2 linked regions of the Homo sapiens genome follow. The protein of the gene in region 2 interacts with the protein of the main gene of each other region in a pairwise test. Each region holds a gene or a part of one and is shown on either strand. Other genes may lie near its edges.

Region 1 (7,026 bases), on a different chromosome or scaffold from region 2:
CCATCTTCTTTACTAAAAATACAAAAATTAGCACACAGTGGCAGGCACCTGTAATCACAACTACTCGGGAGGCTGAAGCAGGAGAATCACTTGAACCTGGGAGGCAGAGGTTGCAGTAAACCGAGATTGCGCCACTGCACTCTAGCCTGGGCGACAGAGCAAGACTCCGTCTCAAAAAAAGAGAGTTGATCTTCTCAACGACAACCTTAGTTCAAGTTACACTCGCTACTTAAATCTTCAGTCTACTCATAGAAATACATGTCATTGGCTTCTATTCCAAAGACTTTCGAACTTAATGGTTCCTAAAATGTGTAATTGTCTTTCCCAACCACCTTTTTAAAGATCATTGAACTTGATGGAAATCTTGAATTCTGTTATATTCTTGGGACTATTATAATATTTAACTCTTACAGATATTTAAAATGTTTCCATTTGGATTTTGGATGTCCCATATAAATTGATCTAACTTGCTGTTTCAACGTATAAAGTCACTCTACTGAAAGAAGAAAATCTGAAATGCATTACCGATTTCCATGACCTAATCACATAATTCTGAAAATAACTTAAACCTTTTTTGATGACTCAAGAGTACTACTATGAATGCATGTTATGTTAAAATCCTTTCAATGTGAATATCAGGTTGTAACTGACCCCAGTGTATAGGACAATTCCTATTTTTTTTTTAGATATAACTTTTTTTGAGACGGAGTTTCACTCTTGTTGCCCAGGCTGGAGTGCAATGGTGTGATCTGGGCTCACTGCAACCTCCGCCTCCCAGGGTCAAGCAATTCTCCTACCTCAGCCTCTCAAGCAGCTGGGATTACAGGCACCTGCCACCATGCCCGGCTAATTTTTTGTATTTTTAGTAGAGACGGGGTTTCACCATGTTGGTCAGGCTGGTCTCAAACTCCTGACCTCAGGTGATCCACCCGCCTCAGCTTCCCAAAGTGCTGGGATTACAGGTGTGAGCCACTGCGCCTGGCCTGAGATATAACTCTTACGCCATAAAATTTACCCATTTTAAAGTGTACAATTCAGTTTTTTGATATGGTCACAAAATTGTGCAACCATCATGACCCTCTTAACTCCAGAACATTTTCATCATTTGCATAAAGAAACCCCATGCCTGTTAACAGTCACTCCTATTCCCATGTCTCCCTAGCTCCTGATAACCCCTCATCTACTTCCTATGTGGATCTACCCATTCTGGGCATTTCATGTGAATAAAATCATAAATAAAATATGTATTTTTTATGACTAGTTTCTGTAACTTAGCATCAGGTTTTTTGTTTTTTAGACAAAGTCTCGTTCTGTCACCCAGGCTGGAGTGCAATGGCGCGATCTCGGCTCACTGCAAGCTCCGCCTCCTGGGTTCACGCCATTCTCCTGCCTCAGCCTCCCGAGTAGCTGGGATTACAGGCACCTGCCACCATGCCCGGCTAATTTTTTGTATTTTTAGTAGAGACAGGGTTTCACCGTGTTCGCCAGGATGGTCTCGGTCTCCTGACCTCATGATCCGCCCGCCTCGGCCTCCCAAGGTGCTGGGATTACAGGCATGAGCCACCACACCCAGACTTGTTTGTTTTTTAGAGACAGGATCTCACTGTCACCCATACTGGATTGTGGTGGCGTAATCCTGGCTCACTACATCCTTGACCTCCTGGGCTCAACCAGTCCTCTGCCTCAGTCTCCCAAGTAGCTGGGACTACAGGCTCACGCCACCGTTCCCAGCCAGCATGAGGTTTTTAAGGTTCACCCATGTTGTAGTATATACAGTCATATGTCACTTAATGATGGGGATATGTTCTGAGAAATGTGTTGTTAGGTGATTTTTGTTGTTGTGTGAACATCATAGAATGTACTTACACAAACCTGGCTGATATAGCCTACTACACGCCTAGGCTGTATGGTATAGCCTATGGCTCCTAGGCTACAATCCTGTATAGCATAATACTATAGGCATTTGTAAAACAATGGTAAGTATTTGTGTATCTAAACATATCTAAACACAGGAAAGCTGGGCACAGTGGCTCACGCCTGTAATCCCAGCACTTTGGGAGCCCAAGGTGGGTGGATCACCGAGGTCAGGAGTTCAAGACAAGCCTGGCCAACATGGCAAAACCCCGTCTCCACTAAAAGTACAAAAATTAGCCAGGCATGGCGGTGGGTGCCTGTAATCCCGGCTACTCAGGAGGCTGAGGCAGGAGAACTGCTTTAACCCAGGAGGCGAAGGTTGCAGTGACCTGAGATGGTGCTACTGCACTCCAGCCTGGGGGATAGAGCAAGACTTTGTCTACAAAAATAAATAAACAAATAAATAAACACAGGAAAGGTACAATAAAAATATGGTATTATAATCTTATGGGACCACCGTCGTATATGTAGTCAGTTGTTGACCAAAATGTTATGCGGCGCGTGACCATATCAGTACTTCATTCTTTTTATGGCCGAGTTACATTCCATTGTATGGGTATACCACATTTTGTTTACCCACCTGTCCGTCAGTGGACATTTGGATTGTTTCCACCTCTTAGCTGTTGCAAATAATGCTATTATAAACATTCGTGTATCAGTTTCTGTGTAGACGTATGTGTTCATTACTCTTGAATATATACCTAGGAGTGAAATTGCTGGGTCATATGATAACTCCATGTTTAATCATTTGAGGAACTCCCAGACTGTTTTCCAAAGTCGCTGTACCATTTTATATTTCCACCAGCAGTGTGTGAAGGTTCTTACTTATCTATACTCTGGCCAACACTTAGTATTTTCATGTTTTTTAAAAAATTATTATATCTCTGGAAAAACATGGAAAAAAAAGAAAATATAGAAAAAGAAGAAGAAAAAAATTTTAAAAAATTATTGTAGCAAACTATCCTAGTGGGTGTGAGGTAGTATCTCATTGTGATTTTGATTTGCATTTCTCTAATGATTAATGATGCTAAACATCTCTTCATGTGCTTATTTCTATTTGTCTTATTTAATCTTATTTATTTTAGCGATTATCTTATTTAATCCTCTTAACAGACTTCCTTAGAGCCTCTAAACAGTCAATAACCTCATTTTACAAAAAGGAAACGAATGCTTAGAGTTAAGTAACTTGACAAAGTCACACAGCTAATGATTGGTAGACCTATAATCCTGTGTTTCTTCTTTTTAAAATCCTTCAGAAGTGCCTCAGAACCCCCAAAACTGGAGGGGCTTCCAAGATCTAGCTCTTACATACTTTTCTAGTTTCATCTTCTGCCATCCTTCTGTAGGCCCACAGTCTCTAGCTATAGCAAACTTCTTACCATCCCCTAGGAGGCCATGCTGTTTAATACGCTGTTTTTGCCTTCCCATTTGGTGCTCTCTCTGGCTAGAACGCCTTTTGCCCTCTTTCTCATGTATAAACTTCTTTTCATCCTTCAAGACCCAACCTAAACGTTGAGCCTTTTGGAAATGTTTCTCAATACTACCAGGTACAATCATTTGCTTTCTTTGTTTTACAGTTCCCTTCTACTATGAGTATTTTCTTCATTGTATTGTCACTTTGTCTAGAAGTCTCTTCTCTTCCTGTCTCTTCTCTGACTCTCTCTCTCTCCTACTAGACAGTGAGCTGCTTGAAAGTGAGCACTGACCTTTGACATTTCATCACCTCTATATTCTCAGGACCAGGTATAGTCTGGTATAGAGTAGTTGCTCAATAAATATGTCTTGAATAAAATGCGTTTCACCTGCCAATTTGAGTATCTGCCCTTCTCATAAAAATAGAGTAAAAGGGCCACATACAGTGGCTCACACGTGTAATCCCAGCACTTTGGGAGGCCAAGGCGGGCAGATCACTTGAGGCCAGGAGTTTGAGACCAGCCTGGCCAACATGGCGAAACCCTGTCTCTGTTAAAAATATAATAATTAGCCAGGTGTGGTGGTGCGTGCCTGTAATCCCAGCTACTCAGGAGGCTGAGGCATGAGAATCACTTGAACCCAGGAGTGGCAGGTTGCAGTGAGCCAAGATCATGCCACTGCACTCCAGCCTGGGTAACAGAGTGAGACTCTGTCTCAAAAAAAAAAATAAATAAATAAATAAAAGATTTTTCTGTTAAAATATAGAAAGAGCCAGACATGGTGGTACACTGTTATAGTCCCACCTATGTGGGAGACTGAAGCAGGATCACTTGAGCCCCGGAGGCCAAGGCTGCAGTGAGCCAAGATCGTACCACTGCACTCCAGGCTGGTGGGACCTTGTCTCAAGAATTTAAAAAAGGAAAATATACTTCTGTGGAGTTCAGAACAATGTAAAATTAATGATTGTATCAAAAGATGAAGTTGTTTTCTTTCGGCTGTTTTTCTGACCCTTCAGAAAACCTCCATTGCTTTGAATCCTGTGGCTCTCAGCAGCATGTGAAACACGGAGGGCATAGCGGATGCCTTATATCACCTTCAGTTCCCTCTGTCTCCCTGGCGCTGTTGGACTAGGTCCAACATAAAATTCTTACAGTTCCAGAATATCTGGGGGAAGTTTTTTGTTTTTGTTTTTGAGACAGGGTCTTGCCCTGTTGCCCAGGCTGGAGTGCAGTGGCACAATCACAGCTCACTGCAGCCTCAGCCTCTCAGGCTCAAGTGATCCTCCCACCTCAGCCTACTGAGTAGCTGGGACCACAGGCATATACTACCACACACCTGGCTAATTTTTTAATTATTTGTAGAGATGAGGTCTCGCCATGTTGCCCAGGCTGGTCTCGAACTCCTGGGCTCAAGTGATCCTCCTGCCTGGGCCTTCCAAAGTGCTAGGATTATAGATATGAGCTACCATGCCCGGCTGGGGGAAGTTTTATTCCAAAATCTGCAATGTATTTTTCATCACCAGAAGATACCTCAGCAAACCAAACTAAGCCATAATTTTATCCATGACTTTTTAAATATATACATTAGAGTAGTATTCTAAGTATAAACAAATTTTCTTTTCTTTCTTTTTTTTTTTTTTTAGTAGAGATGGAGTCTTGCCCTGTTGCCCAGGCTAGAGTGCAGTGGCATGAGCATTGCTCACTGCAGCCTCGAACTCCTGGGCTCAAGGGATCTTCCCTCCTGCCTTAGCCTCCTGAGTAGCTGGGACTACAGGTTCGAGCCACTGTACTCAGCAACATTAAAACATAAACTTTTAGGTTGCAAATCTTATTTTAGGTTATAGATCTCATTCTCAGGCCACTGCACTCCAGCCTGAGTGACAGAGCAAGTCTGTATCTCAAAAAAAAAAAAAAAAAGAAAGAAAAAAAGGCAAAAATGGTTTCTCAAGAATAATTTGGCACACACTTGTATTCAGAAGGCTGAGGTGGGAGGATCACCTGAGCCCGGGGAGGTCAAGGCTGCAGTGAGCTGTGATCTCACCACTGCACTCCAGCCTGAGCAACAGAGAAAGATTCTGTCTAAAACAAAAAACAAACAAAGCAAAAAAAAAAAAAAAAAAAAAAAGACCAGGCGCAGTGGCTCACACTTGTAATCCCAGCACTTTGGGAGGCCGAGGCAGGTGGATCATGAGGTCAGGAGTTCGAGACCAGCCTGGTCAAAACAGTGAAACCCCCATCTCTACTAAAAATGCAAGAATTAGCTGGGCATGGTGGCCGGCACCTGTAATCCCAGCTACTTAGGAGGCTGAGACAGTAGAATCACTTGAACCCGGGAGGTAGAGGTTGCAGTGAGCCGAGATTGCACCACTGCACTCCAGCTTGGGCGACAGAGCTAGACTCCGTCTCAAATTAAAAAAAAAAAAAAAAAAAAAAAAAGAATAATCCTTCCTTAAGGTGAGGTCTGCAATTGACTAGTTGGAGTCGAGGGTTGCTATTCCCAGGTACACATGTAGTTTTGAAATGATCGCTCTCACTCTCTCTAGGTACATGAATATGATGAAACCAGTCAAAAAACATTTTTTTTTTCTGTATCCACATTTTTTGTTTTTGTTTTTGTTTTTGTTTTGAGACAGAGTCTCACTCAGCCGCCCAGGCTGGAGTGGAGTGGTGCAATCTCGGCTCACTGCAACCACCGTCTCCAGGGTTCAAGCGATTCTCCCGTCTCAGCCTCCTAAGTAGCTGGGATTACAGGCACCCGCCATCATGCCCGGCTAATTTTTGTATTTTAGTAGAGATGGGGTTTTGCCATGTTGGCCAGGCTGGTCTTGAACTCCTGACCTCAGGTGATAAACCCGCCTCAGCTTCCCAAAGTGCTAGGATTACAGGCGTGAGCCTCCTTTCTGTATCCCCATTTGTATAAGACAAGAAAATGTGTGGCAATAAAACTCTAAAATGTTTACATTTTGTACTCATTGAAAGCAGTGTTTTTAAATGTTTAGATAATTAATAATAATAATAATAGCTGACATTTATCAAGGGCTTGTTATAAGCCAGGCACTGTTATAAGCACGTTTCTTGGATTAGCTTCTAATATTCTCCATCTCGCAGCTCTGTAAGCTATAGGTATTATTATTGTCCCTGTATTAGTCCATGCTCTCATTGATAAAAAGAAATACCTGGCCGGGGCCAGGCACCGTGGCTCATGCCTGTAATCCCAGCACTTTGGGAGGCTGAGGCAGGCCGATCATGAGGTCAGGAGTTTGAGACCAGCCTAGCCAATATGGTGAAACTTCATCTCTACTGAAAATACAAAAATTAGCCGGGTATGGTGGCCCGCACCTGTAGTCCTAGCTACTCCAGAGGCAGAGACAGAATCGCTTGAACCCGGGAGGCAGAGGTTGCCATGAGCCGAGATCACGTCACTGCACTGCAACCTGGAGGGCAGAGTCAGACTCTGTCTCAAAACAAAACAAAACAAAACACCTCGCTGGGTGCTGTGGCTCATGCCTGTAATCCCAGCACTTTGGGAGGCCGAGGCGGGCGGATCACCTGAGGTCAGTAGTTCGAGACCAGCCTGGTCAACATGGTGAAACCCTGTCTCTACTAAAAATATAAAAATTAGCCACGCATGGTGGGATGTTCCTGTAATCCCGGCTACTTGGGGGGCTGAGGCAGGAGAATCGCTTGAACCCAAGAGGTA
Region 2 (7,346 bases):
GGGGGGAGGGGGGAGGGATAGTATTGGGAGATATACCTAATGCTAGTTGACGAGTTAGTGGGTGCAGCGCACCAGCATGGCACATGTATACATATGTAACTAACCTGCACAATGTGCACATGTACCTTAAAACTTAAAGTATAATAATAATAAAAAAAGGAGATATACCTAATGTAAATGACGAGTTAATAGGTGCAGCACACCAACATGGCGCATGTATACATATGTAACAAACCTGCACGTTGTGCACATGTACCCTAGAACTTAAAGTATAATAAAAAAAAGAAAAAAAGTTGGTAAATTTTGTACTGTAAATATAAAAAATTCTATATAGAAGTCCAAAAAATTATAAATCGGGAAAATATTTATAACACTTATTGAAGTCAAAAGACTCATTTGCTTAATTTGCAGAAAGTTCTTATGTATTAGTAAGAAACAGATGAACAACTTAGTAAAAAAATGAGGAAAGACAGTACACAGAAAGATAAATACAGATGCTTAACAAACCTCTAAGAAGATGTTTAATCTCACTTATAATTAAATAAATTAATTATTTGGAGCACAACATAGAATGCATATATATATATCTATCTATCGATCGACCTATATATATATATAAATTTAAGAGGTGAAAGTTGGCAGCATGGGTAAAATTTAAAATGAACACCCATTTTGACACAATTATTTTACTTTTAGGAATTTATCTTGAGGAAATAATATCATAGTTGCCAAAATATATATAGACAGAAGTCTTCACTGTGGCATCTTTGTAATAGATAAAGATTAGGAAGAGGCTAAGTATCCATCAGTAAAAGATTGGTTAAATTCTGGTAAATCCACGCTTCAGAATATTAGTGTGTCTGCTAAAAAGATTCACATGATATATCAGGTGAAAAAAATAGTTATGCAGAATAATATGCATAGTATAATCCCAAATTATTTTAGAAAGATATATGTGTACACACACACATAATGTATCTACATATATTTTTTAGTAATATATGTGAAACAACAACAAAACCTGGAAAGAGTCACCTGAAAAATTAACAGTGGTTTTCATAGGATTTATCCTAGGATTGAAGTAGATTGGTTATCACAGTAGTTATCAGAGGGGTGGGGAAGTTGAGATTTTTTATTTTCTGTTCCCCTCTTTTCCTAGTTACCACCTGCTTTTCTTCATCTCAGCTGAAAACTTCACTCTCTCTGCCCCAGCAAGGAAACTTTCCCTGATCCTCAGACTATGCCCCTTTTTTAAAAACGATATTAACAGAGGTTTTTTCCTTTACAGTATTTTTCTCTCTCTCTGTGTGTGTGTGTGTGTGTGTGTGTGTGTGTGTGTGTGTGTGTGTATGCGCTCATTTTATTAAGGTCTTATTTCCACCACGAGAGAAGAGTCTGTGTTGTTTTTGCTCACCAATACATTCCCCATAAGCTCAGCACTTGTGGCCGCTCTCCCTATTTCCTCTCCTTCCCAGTATTATGATATGGACAATTTAATTTTCCTCAGTCTTATATAAAGGGTTATAAAAGTGCACCTTTAGGCATCCCCCAAATCATCCATACACAGATGAAGAAGAACACATGAAAAACAAACAGCAAATGTCAGGTTGCACTAAACAATGAAATACTAAGGACACTCCCATTTTCTTCAAGAATAAGATCTGGAGGCCCTCAATCACCATTATCATTCAAACTAGTTCTGCAGGTTCTGGTCAATGGAATACATGCAGAAAATAAAAGAATAAAGAATATAAATACTGGAAAAGAAGAAATGAAAAATCATCATTTGCAGATATTATGCATGCATACCTGGAAAAACCAAAAGTATCGATGAAAAAACTATTAGAAATAATAAGAATGGTCACTAAAGATAAATATATCATAATTAATTACTTTACCTGAGACAAACAATAACCAGGTAGAATGTGTAATCATAATGGGAATGTCATTCATATAAACAAAACACAAACATAATAAGAAATGAGTATAAAGAAACATCACATTTATTGAAAATCTCAAAAGTTGGCATGGATAGAAAGACTCCATTTTTAAAGATGTAAATTCTCCAATTAAAGTGCAGATTTATTGCAAGTACTGCAGTAAATGTCAATTGTTTTGTTTTGCATATTGTTCAACTTGGAACTTGACACATCCACATACATATACTGTATATTTGCAGGAAGAAAGGTCGATATCATTGAAAGTGCTTGGTGGTAGAATAGGCATTGCAGGGCAGTTTTGCATTCTACTCTACAGATTTCTGCACTTAAAAAAATAAGTATATAACTAGAGACAGAGAAGAGGGGAGAGGAATAGACTTTCTTTTTCTTTTTCTTTTTTTTTTTGAGATGGAGTCTTGCTCTGTTGCCCAGGCTGGAGTGCAATGGCACAATCTCAACTCACTGCAACCTATGCCTCCTGGGTTCAAGCAATTCTCCTTCCTCAGCCTCCCAAGTAGCTGGGACTACAGGTTCGTGCCACCATTCCCGGCTAATTTTTGTATTTTTAATAAAGATGGCGTTTTACCATGCTGGCCAGGCTGGTCTCGAACTCCTGACCTCAAGTGATCTGCCAGCTTCAGCCTCCCACAGTGCTGGGAAGGAGTAGATTTTCTATTGAGGGGATATATAGCTTTTTTTCAGGAAAGTATTAATAGTTCTTAGTTATTTTTTAAAAGTCATACATGCCTGTGAGAATCTGATGAAAGCTATGGCTCCTTTCTCCACGAAAATGAATATACGTATGACCACAATTGCAGGTGGTCCACAAGGTTGTCCGTGTGAGAATGCCTACTCTGGGTTAATCCATGGGGATTGTTCCTTAGGCATACATTTGGCTGAGCGGGCACCAAGGTGGATATGGACTGGCAGGCAGTAACTCTGCAACAAGATTAGGTTCTCTTTTTAAGGAAGCCAGAGGCAAGAAGCCCAGCGGGCTGCACCTCTCAGGTCAGGTGGTGGCAGCACACAGTATTAGGAGCAATGCTCACTCAGGCACCATGAATAAGGGCAGAGGGGTAGGTAGGAACAGAAAGCCCTTCGATGCATTGCTGTTACCTCTGTGGGAATTTGGGGAAGGAAGGGAAGGAGCCAAAGGTATTTACTCTGATTGGTCACCTGAGTAAACGTGGCATTTACCACCTTGGTCACTCATCTATATATATTTTTGGAGTGAACAATAGATGGGTGCCTGAATACAGGGGATGAGAGGCTATGGAATGTGGAAGGGTGGGAGGGCAGCACCTTCTTCCGCTCTTGACAGGGCAGGAAGGATTAGAACATCGCTGCATCCCTCACACCCTCAGGTGCCTCAGCCTTGGTAGACTGGAATTCAATTCAGAGGCAGGTGATCAGAGTAGCCATCAAATCACAAGAGGTTCATATAACAGTCGGTCAAGACTTTGGGACGTTAAATACATGCTTTTCTTTAATTTAATAAGACAGGGTTGTGTTGCTTTAACTTATCAAATTGCAAGTTGATTCAAAAATAGAAAAAGTAAGGAATTATTTGTGTAAAATGGCCAAGATTAGACAACTGGTCGTCTCTTTGTGGAGTAATTCATAGATCATGTAAAAAAAATCCATTTTTTTTAAGAGATAGAGGCTTGCTCTCTGTCACCCAGGCTGGAGTGCAGTGGTGACATCATAGCTCACTGCAGCCTTAAACTCCTGGGCTCCAGCAATCCACCCACCTCAGCCCACTTTTCAATTTTAAAATGAGTTATTTTGTTTTAAAAGCTACTAATTGGCTGTAACCAGTAGAAATATTTTCCTACTGTTACAAATAAAATAACGAAATTAATGAGGCCTTTTGGGTTTTCTCTCCCGTTTAAACTCTCCACTCAAAGGAAAATAGCATCATTTTATTTTCTCAATATAAAAGTAATGCGTTACTGATTTAAAAACAAATGAGCAGAAAAGTTTAAATAAGACACTCCCACGATCTATCTCCTTTTCTAACATCTTGCTCCACATTTTACAGGGGTGCAGAAGAAATAGGACATTCATGACTTGTGATGGGGGGAGGTATAGAGAGAGACAGTTGGACTGGGACTAGAGAAGATAAAAAATTATTCCTCGAAGAGGAAGAAAAGGCCAACGGACACGGGAGCAGATACAGCCTCTCCCTGTAAACCAAAGAAAGGCAAATTCACCACAAAGAGAAGCTACTTCTAGTCTCCGGGGTTGGCAAAGAGGAAAATGAGTGACAGGACCTGATGTGTCAGGGAAGGAAGGGGAGGGCCGGCTTCTGCGGCGCTGCTGATGGGAGTGGTAATTGGGGTCCTGATCTCATGGTTGACGTGGCCCTCACGTGAGCTGGAGCCGACGCGTGCAGACGTCCTTCTAATCCTAGTCTTCGTTTGGTCCGGTTGCACTCTTCCTATAGCCCAGAGGGCGAGAGGGCCTGTGGCCTGGGGGAAGGAGGACGAGGTTCTGCCTGGATCCCAGCAGGTTTGTGTGTGGATGGGCGTTGCCAGGGGATCCCTGCGGCGCGGGCAGTGAACCGTGGAGGCCGAAGGGGGAGCACAGTTCACTTTCTCCAAACCCTTGCAGTATCCCTTGCCCTTTCTAGAACAAAAATGGTAGACCTTGGGGCCGGATTCCAGGGGCGACCCCAGACTCGGGCGTCGTGGGACCTTTAACATCCAGGGCCTTGAATCAGGGAGGGCGGATATTCGGATTCATGTCCTGTGTGCTGGCCCATCTACCAAGCCAGAATCTTGGGGCTGTGCGTCTGACAGTCATACCCCTTTTCTTTCAGTAGGACGCTGTGCCATTTGGGAACAAAGGAATAGTCTGCCTGGAATCCCTGCAGGTCAGTGTAAAGCTGGAGCTGTCCCGCGGCGCCCAGAAGGACTGGGATGACTGAGGTCCTTGCCTTAACTTGGGCCCTTTACCGACTCTCAAGCAATCTTCCTGCCATTTTTTTTTTCTTCAGTAAAAGAGGATGTAACAGTGGCTGCAGGAAAAGTGCTTGTGATTGCGGGTAGGGTGCGTTGGGGAGAGGAATAGAAGAGATCGGTTGGTTTTGTTTTTCTCCTCGGATTTTCCATATCCCCCCTCGCCCCGCCCCGCTTCCAGTGGTTTGAAAGGGGTGTGGTTTTGCTGGGAAAATGGCCGACCGCTGGGGCTGCGGGAGGGAGTGAGGGCCGGGGGCGGGGACGGGGGTAGGGGAACACTACCAAGCGACAGGGCTGGTGTCAGCGGAGTCCAGAGAAGTGAGGGTAGGGTGAGAAACAAAAAGGTAAAATCCATTGACAGCCAGGACCCTGAATTAGGAGAAGTGGATATTGGGACTCCCCGAAGTGCTTTTCTGTCCGCTGAGCCTTCAGTTTCTGCCTTGTTGCCTGTGTCTGCAGATCTTGGGGCCGGAGGCCAGTCCAACCCTTGGAGCAGGAAGAAACGCAAAGTTGTCAAGAACCAAGTAGGTCATAATAAGGGTGATGGCATTATTTGGGGGTGGAGCATGGTGGCGACTGCAACTCGAATGGGCCCGTGGACCCCTTCCATATCCCCCTCCTTCCCTCTTATCTACACCATTTCGGAGCTTGCAAAAGAAATTGTTCTGCAAGTACAAGACAGGGAAGAAAATAGCTGAGAAGGGGTGGGCGTCAAGAGAGTCCAGGGGTTGGGAGGACGTTACTCCAAATTACTGTTTGGGGTACAGGGTCCTTGGTGTTGGTCCGTCGACCAAGCACTCACTTCTGAAGTTTGTCAGTCTTGAAGGTTTAGTGGAAGCGGAAACCGAGGTGAGGGAGGTAAGAAATTGCTCCGGAGCAGAGGTAGTTGGTATAATGACACGGGGTGGGGGGGGGGGGCGGCGGTGTCCTGGTACATTTGAGATGGAGGAGTTGGCGGAGGCAAGGGCGGAGTTGGAGACCTTTAGGCATTTCACGCCAGTACGGCTTTTAGATATTCTCACTTCATTTTGTTACAAGGAAAATGTTAACGATGAAAATGTGTGGCGACATCTTCGGAGGATGCCAATGATGGGAGTAGGGGTGGAGGTGGAATGGAGGGTTAGAGGAATCATCGAAGGAGGAAGAGGGAGGGAGATAATGAATTCCAAAGCCGCAGCTCTGTGAGGAGAGGAGGGTAACCGAAGGCGGGAAACATTGGGCAAGGCAGTTGTAAAGGGCTAGGAATTCAGAAGAGGGATGTGTGCCCCGTCCCGGGTGAGATCTATATGTACCCAGAGCTCTCAGTACCCCTCTCCCCGCGCCCTTGGTCTGCAGGTTTGCACGAAGCAGTGCACTTGGAAGCAAGAAAGAGAAGGAAAAAAAACTGCCTGGACCTCTGTGGGTGCATGTGAGGGCGCCACTGTTCACAGGACATCTGGAAGGGCAGGGGTGGCAGGGAACTTTAACGTTCTAGGGTGGGGTGGTGGAACGTGAGGTTGGAGAGTCTTTAAGCGGGGAAAATTTCCAAACTTAGCTTCCGGGTGGAAGAAAGGAATCAGTGATCTAGATATCAAGCCCCGAGTCTCTGCCAGTATCTCTGTATTTTTGTACGTTTGTTTGTTTTGTTGTTGTTTCAGTCTGTTTGCGTTCAAAGACACAAAAAGGAGCCTGAAATCTGAAATGCATCCTTTATTCCTAGGTCGAGCTGCCTCAGAGCCGGCCCGCAGTAGCTGCAGACTCCGCCCGCGACGTGTGCGCGCTTCTCTGGGCCAGAGCGAGCCTGTTTTGTGCTCGGGTTAAGAGATTTGTCCCAGCTATACCATGGGCCGCACTCGGGAAGCTGGCTGCGTGGCCGCTGGTGTGGTTATCGGGGCTGGTGCCTGCTACTGTGTATACAGACTGGCTTGGGGAAGAGACGAGAACGAGAAAATCTGGGACGAAGACGAGGAGTCTACGGACACCTCAGAGATTGGGGTTGAGACTGTGAAAGGAGCTAAAACTAACGCTGGGGCAGGGTCTGGGGCCAAACTTCAGGGTGATTCAGAGGTCAAGCCTGAGGTGAGTTTGGGACTCGAGGATTGTCCGGGTGTAAAAGAGAAGGCCCATTCAGGATCCCACAGCGGAGGTGGCCTAGAGGCCAAGGCCAAGGCCCTTTTCAACACGCTGAAGGAACAGGCAAGTGCAAAGGCAGGCAAAGGGGCTAGGGTGGGTACCATCTCTGGGAACAGGACCCTTGCACCGAGTTTACCCTGCCCAGGAGGCAGGGGTGGAGGCTGCCACCCCACCAGGAGTGGATCTAGGGCCGGGGGCAGGGCAAGTGGAAAATCCAAGGGAAAGGCCCGAAGTAAGAGCACCAGGGCTCCAGCTACAACATGGCCTGTCCGGAGAGGCAAGTTCAACTTTCCTTATAAAATTGATGATATTCTGAGTGCTCCCGACCTCCAAA

What was found. The genes of interacting proteins can lie anywhere in the genome.
Region 1: the proteins of ARMCX1 (region 2) and ZBTB8A interact in binary tests that used the Homo sapiens proteins (3 or more experiments, as listed by UniProt).

The regions. Positions count from the first base shown.
Region 1 is NC_000001.11:32,542,401-32,549,426, forward strand, and holds part of ZBTB8A (zinc finger and BTB domain-containing protein 8A), read left to right. Parts: intron 1-7,026. UniProt on the Homo sapiens protein: May be involved in transcriptional regulation.
Region 2 is NC_000023.11:101,546,210-101,553,555, forward strand, and holds the start of ARMCX1 (armadillo repeat-containing X-linked protein 1), read left to right. Parts: upstream 1-4,337; 5' UTR 4,338-4,451; intron 4,452-4,761; 5' UTR 4,762-4,815; intron 4,816-5,359; 5' UTR 5,360-5,424; intron 5,425-6,599; 5' UTR 6,600-6,721; coding exon 6,722-7,346. UniProt on the Homo sapiens protein: Regulates mitochondrial transport during axon regeneration. Increases the proportion of motile mitochondria by recruiting stationary mitochondria into the motile pool. Enhances mitochondria movement and neurite growth in both adult axons and embryonic neurons.